3 linked regions of the Homo sapiens genome follow. The protein of the gene in region 3 purifies or fractionates together with the protein of the main gene of each other region. This does not show direct contact. Each region holds a gene or a part of one and is shown on either strand. Other genes may lie near its edges. The genes, in order: GSTCD, SYAP1 and MAP7D3.

Evidence for each region.
Region 1: the proteins of MAP7D3 (region 3) and GSTCD fractionate together in Homo sapiens (co-fractionation; one large-scale study listed by BioGRID). This does not show direct contact.
Region 2: the proteins of MAP7D3 (region 3) and SYAP1 purify together in Homo sapiens (co-immunoprecipitation; one large-scale study listed by IntAct). This does not show direct contact.

Annotation. Positions count from the first base shown.
Region 1 is NC_000004.12:105,718,677-105,722,328, forward strand, and holds part of GSTCD (glutathione S-transferase C-terminal domain-containing protein), read left to right. Parts: intron 1-383; coding exon 384-851; intron 852-3,652.
Region 2 is NC_000023.11:16,754,064-16,757,715, forward strand, and holds part of SYAP1 (synapse-associated protein 1), read left to right. Parts: intron 1-881; coding exon 882-1,030; intron 1,031-2,599; coding exon 2,600-2,658; intron 2,659-3,098; coding exon 3,099-3,246; intron 3,247-3,652.
Region 3 is NC_000023.11:136,216,179-136,220,417, reverse strand, and holds the end of MAP7D3 (MAP7 domain-containing protein 3), read left to right. Parts: intron 1-746; coding exon 747-825; intron 826-922; coding exon 923-988; 3' UTR 989-1,020; intron 1,021-1,924; 3' UTR 1,925-3,604; downstream 3,605-4,239. UniProt on the Homo sapiens protein: Promotes the assembly and stability of microtubules.

The sequences.
Region 1 (3,652 bases), on a different chromosome or scaffold from region 3:
TTTAGAAAATAACTCTTTTTTCTTTATTTTAGTTATGTTGATTTTTAAATGGAATGTTTACATATAAATAGGAGCTCAAATAGCAATGCTTTGGAAGCCCTGCTTATTGTGGGGGCTAGGAGGAGGGTAGGACAGGGGAGGTATATTGTAAAGGCTTTGGGAAGTAATGATTTATTTAGTAAGGGGAATACAGGAATGCTAAACTTCTTTTGCTTAATGTTTTTACTTCTGAAGCACTGTGATGTGTCTCCTGATACAACATAAAAGCCTAGCCCAGGGATGATTGAGCTCAAAACTTATTTCCCAATAAGACAGTTATTTTTTCTAAAGTTATATTGAAATTAAAAAATCTTTTCATTTCTTGTTTTGTTTTTGTTTTGTAGGTTAGTCAGTGGACCAGGCTATGTGAACTCACCATCCCTTTGGCTATTGAGAATTTTCTCAGAGAATCTTCTGACCAGCCCCCAACTATACCTGTAGAAATACTACAGCTAGAGAAAAAGCTTAGTGAGCCTGTTAGAGTGCATAATGATGATAAACTCCGCAGGCAGAAGCTCAAGCAACAGAAGGCTGATGGAGTTGGGCCTCCCCTTACTAAGGGAAAGGCAAAGAGCAAGGTCCACACACAGGAAACATCTGAAGGGTTGGATTCTTCATCCAAGAGTCTGGAACTGAAAGTGGCATTCTCAAAGCTCACAGTACAGGAAGAACCAGCTACTACCAACAGAGAGCCTTCTCACATCAGAAAAGCAAAAGCCTCCGACCTTCCACCTCTGGAGCATGTGTTTGCAGAAGGGCTTTACTTCACTCTGGCAGATATTGTGCTCTTGCCCTGTATCCATCATTTCTTGGTAAGGTTTCATCTGGACTGTACACATTACTATGAGTTTCAGTCTATGAAATTGCCTAGGTTTGAATTTCTGTTTTACTTTTTATTGTCAATATGCTGCTAGGAAAGTTATTAATATCTTTCTCCATTTTCTTATCTGTAAAATGGTGATAATAATAGTACCTATCTAAAAGGAAAAATGTAAGGAACAAATTAAAGTTTGTGTGAAGTATGGAGAACAGTGCTTGGCACATAGTAAGCTCTCAATCAAAGTTAGTAATTACTATGACTTTTAATGTGAAGTTGCTAAAATGTTAACAATTGTTATTATTAATTTCAAGTTTCTGTTGTGATTACTTTCTAATAGTAGAAGGTCCAAGTCGGCTCTGTGGTGCAATGGATACTCCGTTGGACGTCTACTATTAGAGGGTGCAGTTAAAAAAAAAAAAACTAAAAATCTTGTCAGCTAAATTTTATAATGAATTGTTAGTCACTTAAATTAATCTTATGTTAGGTATTATCAAACTGAAAATATTTTATTCTGACCTGTGTGCTTTTCTCTGTTCTCTCTGAGAGTAAAGTAGCTGGCTCTGTTATTATGTGCTGGGGGAGAATAGATAGAACGTTTTCTGAGTAGGAAGATCTCTCTCTCTCTCTCTCTGTCTGTCTTACATACACACACTCACACACGCACACACGTGTGCACACACACATTCCCTCTGTGGAGGAAAAAAGAACAGGGTGAAAATAATACCAGAGTGAACATAGGAAGCTTAGCTCTCTGCAGCCTTCCAATTGGTTTTCAAGAGCTGCATTGCTTTTTGCTTTTGTTTGGGTTTTTTTCTTGGAAGCATTTCCCCCTTTTCCCTACTAAGGAATCAGATATTAGATTTCATTCTCATTATATATCACCAACAATTCAGGTATCTCTATGGACAGAAGAGACTGCTATCGAAAATCTATGTATTTGAAGGCTTTGCTTCACAAGTAAACTCGGCAGTATTCATCAATTGTCATTTTCTTAAAGAACATTTCTCTTTTCCTCAAAATTGAACCAAATTTGGCAACCAAAACAATATAAAAAGAGAGAGATCCAGGAATTGTTTAGATGTTGATTGCTATTTTAAATGCCAGATGTCATATGTCTTCACAGAGTCCATGGAGTTGAGTGGGAAGAAGACATTGATTTTTAAATTTTTTCCTAGTCAGATGATTCCTAGGTTCTCTTCTCCATGATCCCTCTCTTCTATTACCAAGTTCCGTCATTAGAGCAGTCATTTGATACATTATGAAGTACTTGGTCTTCTGTCTTCTTGACTTCTTTGGATAACTGTGTTTCCAGTTTCACCAGAATTGAATGAAAGTGGCATATCCATTCCTTTATTGAAGAAATTTATTAAAATTATTTGAATACATAAACTAATTCTCAAAATATTTTCCTTCGTTCCTTTGTATTTTTACTGGATTTTTTTTTCTTTTTTTTTTGAGATGGAGTCTCGCTCTGTCACCTAGGCTGTGTGCAGTGGTGTAATCGCAGCTCACTGCAACCTCCGCTTCCTGGGTTGAAGCAATTCTCCTGCCTCAGCCTCCCAAGTAGCTGGGATTATAGGTGCACGCCACCATGCCTGGCTAATTTTTGTATTTTTTAAGTAGAGATGGGGTTTCACCATGTTGGCCAGGCTGCTTTCGAACTCCTGACCTTGTGATCCGCCCACCTCATGTTTTCCAGAATTCATCCTTCTTTGATAAACCCTTGATATTTGTTATATTTTTCTCTTTAAATCATCTTGGGTAATAAAGTAGTCATTTTAATTCATATAGTGGTTATGTTGGCAAGCCTTTTTGCTTGCATTAACATACATTGAGGTGAATGGAGTGGCCATCCAAATGATCAGAATCAGGATCAAGTTCAACATCCGTAATCAAGGTCAAGTTACCAGAAACATAAAACTGAATCTAGGGACAGAATATTTAGTCGCAGGAATAAAGTCAAGGACATAAAAGTAAGAGTCAATTTTGCTAAATCAAGGTTTGAATTACTAAGGGTCAAAATTAGAAGAACTAGGGAAAATACCCAGTTCTGCTAAACAGAATAAAACCAAAGATGGAAAACAATAACAAGTAGAATCGATGAGGTGTTTTTTTTGTTTTTTTTTAATTTGTCAGAGACAAACATGGAAATGCTAAGGTATTATATATAAACCTGCTGCAAGCTCTTCCTTTTCAGAAAATACTTTATTACTTTACAAAGTTAACCCCTGATGGCTCAGCACCTCATAAGGAAAGGGGCCTGACGATACCCTCTCCTCTGAAAAGTCTTAGAAATAGATTTAAAAGGAATAAATTAATATGTACACTCATGTTTCCCCCCATTCAATTTATTTGCTAGAATTTTCTAGTAGATAGCGTATCAACATTATGGGAGAAATAGCAATGAATAGCTATACTAGGGCAAAATCCTACTGTTCCAATACTAGAAGATTGTATATTATTTTTCAGTTGCTACTAGTAAGCAAGTACACTTTGACAGAAATATTTAAAACATTATTGTACGCCTATAAGACAGAAAGTTGCATTTTATCATTTTATAAAATCTTGTAATTTGACCACTTATGATTTAATTTTCTACATTTTAACTTCTAATGCTTTGAATTGAGTTTAAATACACACATACACACACACACACAGACATCTTTATTAGCTTAGGTAAAATCATTCCTCTTTTAGAAATTGATTTTTTAGCAAAACTAAATACCTCTTCCTGTGTTCCCATCGGCATAAAGTTGGGAACCTCACTTTTTGCTGGCATATTGCAAAAATGGT
Region 2 (3,652 bases), about 120 Mb from region 3:
ACTGCACTTCAATCTTTTTATCAAGCATTTCCCACCCCATTGCTAACTCTTACTGGTTACTAGTTATTAGCAAGCTGCCAAACATTCTCTTTCATAAGGAACAACAGCCACAATGCTTGCTTCTCACTGCTGGAAGGCATTTAATCCTCTTGAGAAACAGCAAGTGATTGGTGGAGTCCTGGCTCTGCTTCTGGTTTCCCAGGTTGATTATGCTAGTTTCACAACAATGCCATGTTTTCTTCTACCGAGAGCAGTATTGGTATCATTAAGATACCAAGAAATGCTGAGGTTTCATTGGTATTCTGTAACTTGTATTTTGCTGCTACGGGGAAGATAGCTGTTAGGTTTATCCTGTTGTTAGCTTTCAATTCTAAAGTGAATATGGGCTGGGTGCGGTGGCTCACGCCTGTAATCCCAGCACTTTGGGAGGCCGAGGCGGGCAGATCATGAGGTCAGGAGTTTGAGACCAGCCAGGCCAACATTGTGAAACCCCGTCTCTACTAAAAATACAAAAATTAGCTGTGCATGGTGGCGGGCACCTATAATCCCAGCAACTCGGGAGGCTGAGGCAAGAGAATTGCTGGAACCCAGGAGGCGGAGGTTGCAGTCAGCTGAGATCACACCACTGCACTCCAACCTGGGCAACAGAGCAAGACTCCGTGTCAAAAAAAAAAAATTGTTAAAGCCAATATGAACCCCCTCTGAACCTCACTCAGCTTTGAAAGTGCTCTTGCAAATCATCTACTCCAGTCCCCTTTACAACAAATAACCCCTGCGTGCACTTGTCTGTGTGCGTTCTCAAATGTGTTCTTGTCTGTCTGCTTTTTATTGATTTTCAATTTTGCCTTTTTCCACTGTTCTAATTTGCCTTTCTTTAAAAGTGTGAAGGAAGAAGTGTTCTGGAGGAACTACTTTTACCGCGTCTCCCTGATTAAGCAGTCAGCCCAGCTCACGGCCCTGGCTGCCCAACAGCAGGCCGCAGGGAAGGAGGAGAAGAGCAATGGCAGAGAGCAAGATTTGCCGCTGGCAGGTATATTCTGGGTAGAAGACAGCACTCTACAGAAAAAGTTGTTCTTAGAGACTCAAATGAGCTTGACCTCTTATACGTACCAGAAATGTCATTGCCTTAGGGAAAAATTCTTTTCTTCCCAGAGGAAATCTTCATTTTTCTCTTACTGCCTTCTCTCTGACCCAGCTCACACATGTCTTCCCCAAGCTTTCCTTTACTTTGCTTATCTCCTTTCTCATTCCTTGTTTTCGTTTTTGTTTTTTTTTTTAGACACGGGTCTCACTATGTTGCCCAGGCTGTCCTCAAACTCCTAGACTCAAGCGATCCTCCTGCCTCAGCTTCCCAAGTAGCTGGGACTTACAGGCATGAGCCACTGTGCCTGGCGAGTTTTTTTTTCGTTTTATTTCTCTCTCAAACATCCGTCATCTTCCCCCCCTCTCATTTTTGGCCCTTAACCATGTGATTCTTTATACTTCTGTCCTCTACCCTGATTCAGTCCGCCTCCTTTTTGTTTGTTTCAACCTGATGTTTCTCCAGTGTGTGTAGTCTGTAGAGCAGAACAAAGCTCCATTCCACTCCCAAGTTACAAGGATCTATCTAGTTCTGAGCTAGGCACTGATGAACATTGGACTCATTGTGACACTAACTTACCCCTGGTTGTGGGAATGTGTTTTATAATAAGGGCAGCTGTTTGAAATCTGTAATAATTAAAATAAGAAACACATTTTGTGTCATAGTTTAAATTCTTAGTGAGTACCTGCTGTGTATAGTAGGTACTCATTACAACTGGACATTTATCCCACAAGAAGCGGGGTGATTTAATTCACGGAATTTTAAATGATTAAGCAAAACAGCATGTCCTGAGGTACAGGTTATACAGAATACTAGGACAGGATCTGACACTGCTGTTAGTGTCAGGGAAATGGAGTGAAGTTGCTCTACACAGGAAAATTTGTCATTTTGTATATCAGTGTTAACATGCATCCCAATTGTCTGTTATTCTTTAGCATTTATGTTAATTTTGTTGGAAAATGCCATTTTGCCAAATACTGCCTTGTTTAACAAAATGGATTTATGACAGTATTCCATAAAGACTGCCTTTTTCTAGCACTCTTATCAGCAGGCAAACTTGATAAATAGCTTAATTCTCATTATTCTAAAAAAGTACAGAACTATTCTTCAATGAATTTTGCTAACACTGTAGTTAAAAATTATTTCCTGCTGGAAATTTTATGTAAGGATATGTATTGAATATGATGACATGTTAAAAATATCCCCAGGAGGCTGAGGCAGGAGGATCACTTGAGCCCAGAAGTTCGAGTCCAGCCTGGGCAACATAGTGACACCCCATGTCTAAAAATAAATAAATGGATAGGTAGATAGATAGATAAAAATATCCCCAAAGTAAGAGGTTGAGATGGTTTCACCATGGCTGTTTCTTATAACTTAAGAAAAGCTGAAAGCATAACATAAAAATTCATTTCTGAAAATTATTTAGTATCATAATACTTGTGGATATTTTACTGTGATTATAATATGTATTCAGAACTGAACCAAGCAATTATTGTCTCTCTTATTCTCACTTCTTAGAGGCAGTACGGCCCAAAACGCCACCCGTTGTAATCAAATCTCAGCTTAAAACTCAAGAGGTAATCCAGTTTTACATTGTACCTAGTAGTTGATATCTGGAAATAAAGTAACTGTGTTAACTCTTTCTGATACCATTTAAAACTATGTATGAATATGGGTTTGGAAGAAGCAGCATCTGGTACTTGAATAGTCAAGGAACTAGGGCTGAGACTTGAGGACGATTTACTGGCATATGTAATTCTAGATGTGTTCATCAGGGATTGGAGAGAAGGGTTGGAGTGATTCAAACTGTGAAGGAGAATAATAGCCTCAGGTGGTAACTCATGTAGTTACCAAGCAACTGCAAGTTAGAAGGTTGGAGAGCAGTGCTCATTGTCTTACAGCTCGCAGAGAAAAGAAATAAAAATAGCACGGCATTAAATTGTGAGACAATAGCAAACCAGAATAACACAAATGTCGCTTAGCAAACCATTTCAAGAGCTCATTTGTTGCATTTCAGGATGAGGAAGAAATTTCTACTAGCCCAGGTGTTTCTGAGTTTGTCAGTGATGCCTTCGATGCCTGTAACCTAAATCAGGAAGATCTAAGGAAAGAAATGGAGCAACTAGTGCTTGACAAAAAGCAAGAGGAGACAGCCGTACTGGAAGGTAAAAAACAAAACAAATCAAAGCAAAGAAACTATTCGTCTCCCTAATTCCAAAGCTAATTGTAGAAAATTGTTATTCTGAAGCCAGTGCACAAAAATGTGTTGTAAATTTTGCATCAAAATTGATTCTTGTCAGAGGCAATGGCTCACGCTTGTAATCCTAGCACTTTGGGAGGCCGAGGCGGGCAGATCACGAGGTCAGGAGATCGAGACCATCCTGGCTAACACGGTGAAACCCCGTCTCTACTAAAAATACAAAAAAAAATTAGCCGGGCCTGGTGGTGGGTGCCTGTAGTCCCAGCTATTCGGAAGGCTGAGGCAGGAGAATGGCATGAACCTGGGAGGCGGAGCTTGCAGTGAGCCGAGATCGCGTCACTGCACTCCAGCCTGGGTGACAGAGCGAGACT
Region 3 (4,239 bases):
ACATTTATTGAGTGATTGCTATATACCAGGCATTTTATATTACCTATTTCAATTATCATCACAACTGTGAGTGTGACAGTAATATCCTCATTTTATTATTTTTTTATTTTTCATTTTTTTTTTAAGAGTTGAGGTTTCACCATGTTGGCCAGGCTGGTCTTGAACCTCCTTGGCTCAAGTGATCTGCCCACCTCGGCCTCCCAAAGTGCTGGGATTACAGGCGTAAGCCACCACACCCGGCCATAATATGCTCATTGTCAATGTAAGGAAACAAGGTCAAAAGTTAGGTCAGGAGAGCAGGAACTGATTCATGGAAAGGAATGCTACATGGGCAATTGCCTGAGAAGACATTCACCTGCAAGGCCCACAGGAACAGGAGTCTGCTGAGAGGTGTGATGATGTGGAAGGAGCATTAGAGCTAGAGGACCTGTACCAATTCTGTTACTACACCTCACTGGCCGCATCCTTGACCAATGTAAGGGAGGGGCATGGTTTCTGGAGTCCTGCGTGCTTAGCTGCTCCTACTCCTGGTGCTTCCGTGGGACCTAGGGCTTTCTGGAATACAGTTTGAAAATCAGTGTGTCCTGTGATCTCTAGGGTTCCTTTCAGTCATCCTGTTCTATGATTCTGAAATGTTTTTTAATTCCAAGGCATTTCTTAGAAGTTAATTAAAGGACAAAGCTTCTTTTAGGCCAGAGCCTTGGTTTGGGAATAATTGGGATTCTAACCAAACTGTCTCTTTCCAGACCATCTTCCAAAAGAATGACCAGTCACACAACGAAAACCAGAAAGGCGGATGAAACCAACACCACCAGCAGATCCTCTGTTAGTATGAATTATGAGCAGCAGCGTATCTGTGACAAGATCACCAACATTGTTTAAGTCACACAGAACTATCTTTGTCACATTTTTCTCCTGACAGGCACAAACAAAATCTGAAGGATTCCATGACATCTTGCCAAAGTCCTCAGACACCTTTAGACAATAAGAGAAGAAGCAAACCTGTTTCTCCTCATTTGGGTAAGTCCTCATCTCATCTACCTTTTTCTTGAAAGGCAATTGACCCTGAACCCGCTCCCCTCCTTCTAGCCATTCCAGGGCAGTCTTTGCACCATATAGCTTTGGAAGAGAAGGAGAAGACAGTTGTGGGTCTGCAGGAATGATGTGAGAGTCTTCCATTAAGTTGGTTTTGAGAAAGTAGAGAGTAGATGACTTGATTCTAATTTTTATGTACCACATTTCAGGCCGGATATAAAAAATAAGTTCTGGCCAGGTGCAGTGGCTTACGCCTGTAATCCCAGCACTTTGGGAGGCCAAGGCGGGCAGATCACTTGAGGTCAGGAGTTTGAGACCAGCCTGGCCAACATGGTGAAACCCTGTCTCTACTAAAAATACAAAAATTAGCCGGGTGTGGTAATGCATGCCTGTAATCCCGGCTACTTTGGAGGCTGAGGCAGGAGAATCACTTGAACCCAGGAGGCGGAGGTTGCAGTGAGCCGAGATCCTGCCACTGCACTCTAGCCTGGGTGACAGAACAAGACTCTGTCTCAAAAAAAAAAATGATCTTTTCAAGCTTGCATCTCAGACTCCTCTGAGCTCCTGGTCTGCTGGTTGCTTGGCAAGCACACAGACAGTTGCTTAGGGCAGAAGATTAGGGAGGTCTTCGGAATAAGCCTCAACCTGTTTCCAAAACCAGAAGCCTCTTGTTTTTCTTTCCTTGAGAAGTTCTCTTTGAAATTGAGAAGCACCTTGGGCCTGGTTGGGGACTGGGGAAGTGAAGGACATTTATAGGACCAGTGTGTCAGCAACTCCAGAGGGGCTGCTGAGAGTCCTGGGCGTGTGCCCTGAAGGGAGGCCAGGGACAAGTTGCTGTGAGACTAGCATCTTCTCTACTGATCTTTCTTTTACTTTTCCCTCTGGTCAGATATGTAAACCTTACTCAGCCTGGGAGATGAATACATCTTCCACTCTGGATAACTCAACTCCTGGGCCCATCAGTCCTCAAATTTTTCTGCTTCTGACTTGAACCTGGTAAAGGAAGTGACACCGAAAAATTGAAAGAAACTGTCAAAAGGCCACTTTGATGTATATCTCAGATGTTAAAGTCATCTTATTCTCTTGTGTCTAAGCAAGAGTTCTAAGTAAAGAGTGGTTTTTGTTTTCTTTGGAAAATCATCATTGTCTCTCATTCTTGTGTTGTCCCACCAATGTGTTTGCTGGAGTGAGTGCATCAAGGATGCTTTCCTGAAACTGTAACTGTGGAGTTTCTAGAAGAATCTGATTGCAGAACTAATTCTCTTTCAGTATATATTTGAAATCTTAAAGTAATGCTTTTTCTTTTTCTTTTTCTTTTTTTTTTTTTTGAGACGGAGTCTTGCCCTGTCGCCCAGGCTGCAGTGCAGTGGCACAATCTCGGCTCACTGCAACCTCCGCCTCCTCATCTCAAGCAATTCTCCTGTCTCAGCCTCCCCAGTAGCTGGGATTACAGGCATGTGCCACCACACCTGGCTAATTTTTTTGTATTTTAGTAGAGATAGGGTTTTACCATGTTCACCAGGCTAGTCTCGAAATCCTGGCCTCAAGAGATCCACCCGTCTTGGCCTCCCAAAGTGTTGGGATTACAGGTGTGAGCCACTGCACCCAGCCAAGTAATGCTTTTTCTGTGTACCAGTGACAATTTTGACAGCTAAAAACTCACAGTTGATCTTGTAGAGAACAGAATAGATTATGCAAGGGCCGCAGGATCGCTCACAAGAGCTGTCAGATTGTTTCTAATATAAAAATACCAAAGGTTGCAAAATCCAGCAAATTGTATTTTACTGTGATATATGTATATTTTTAACTCTACCCATCTGTGCCAGTGAGTACACAGGCACTAATAACCTGAAATGCTGGGAGTCCTGTAAAGCCCCATCTTGGAACAGTCAGCACCTTTCATGCTCTTGTCAGTGTTTCCTTTTGAAGGACATATTGGTGTTTATCTACAGAAACATATATTATTTTTATTGTGTACATAAAGGAGTATATGGCTGTTGTCCCGTGGGGTATGTTTAATTCCTCTAAATGTTTAAAGTACTTTTCTGCCTGTACTCTCCAGTTCTGTCGTTGAGTATACACTCAGGCTTGAGATACAACCAAAATTTGCTTGCCTTTCTCTAGCCACTGGCTGCCAGTGAGTTCGTGTGATGGGCACACAGAAATGCACACAGATGTACATACACGTATGTATGCACACACAGTATATGATTCCATAAAATTCAAATGCAGATTAATTCTCCTAATGAGTTTTCAGTGTTGAATCGTAAATAGTCTGAAGCAGGCCAGTGTTCCTTTTGGCTGCCAGTCTTGGATTAGTAAAAGGAGGTAATTCTTTCAGATTCCCTGGTTCTTTGCCACTCAGAGTATTGTACTTTTGATATAGAATAGAGAAGGTTACCTTTGGTTTAAAAACTATTTTTATATACTAGCTCTTTCATGTATAAAACAGAGACAATCATCCTAACAAAAGAGTTCCTGTTATTTTTCTGCACAAATGTCTTGTGTTGAAACACTGTTACAGTTCCATATAAATGTGTGCTATATAAAATAAACTTTGGAGATAAAACAAGGGTTTTTTCATTATAATACTAAAAAAAGTGTACTGGTGGTGGTATAAAGGCAACACCAATTGTTGGCTGAGCTATGAACACAGGCAGCCAGCAAATTGAATGAACAGGGATCAAATCCCCTGATTTCCCTCTTCATCCAGTTGGTGATTTGGCAGAGTTCCACTTCTGGAATAGAAAGATGTGAGTTTTTTTGTTTGTTTGTTTGTTTTAGAGACAAGGTCTCACTCTGTGGCCAAGGCTGGAGTACAGTGGCACGATCATAGCTCACTGCAGCCTCAAACTCTGAGGTTCATGCAATCCTCCCACCTTAGCCTCCTGAGTAGCTGGGACCACAGTCATGGCACCATACCTGGCTTTTTTTTTTTTCTCTTCGTCTTCTTTCTTCTTTCTTCTTTCTTCTTCTTCTTCTTTCTTCTTCTCTTTTTTTCTTTTTTTTTTTTTTTTTTTTTTAGAGATAGGGTCTTGCTATGTTGCCTAGGCTGGTCTTGCACTCCTGGCCTCAAGTGATCTTCCTGCCTCAGCCTCCAAAAGTGCTGGGATTACAGGCATGAGCCACCACACCCAGCCTAGATGTGAGTTTTCAAGCTCTGGTTGTCTTCCTGCAACTATTTCAGTGCTTGTTACTCTTCCC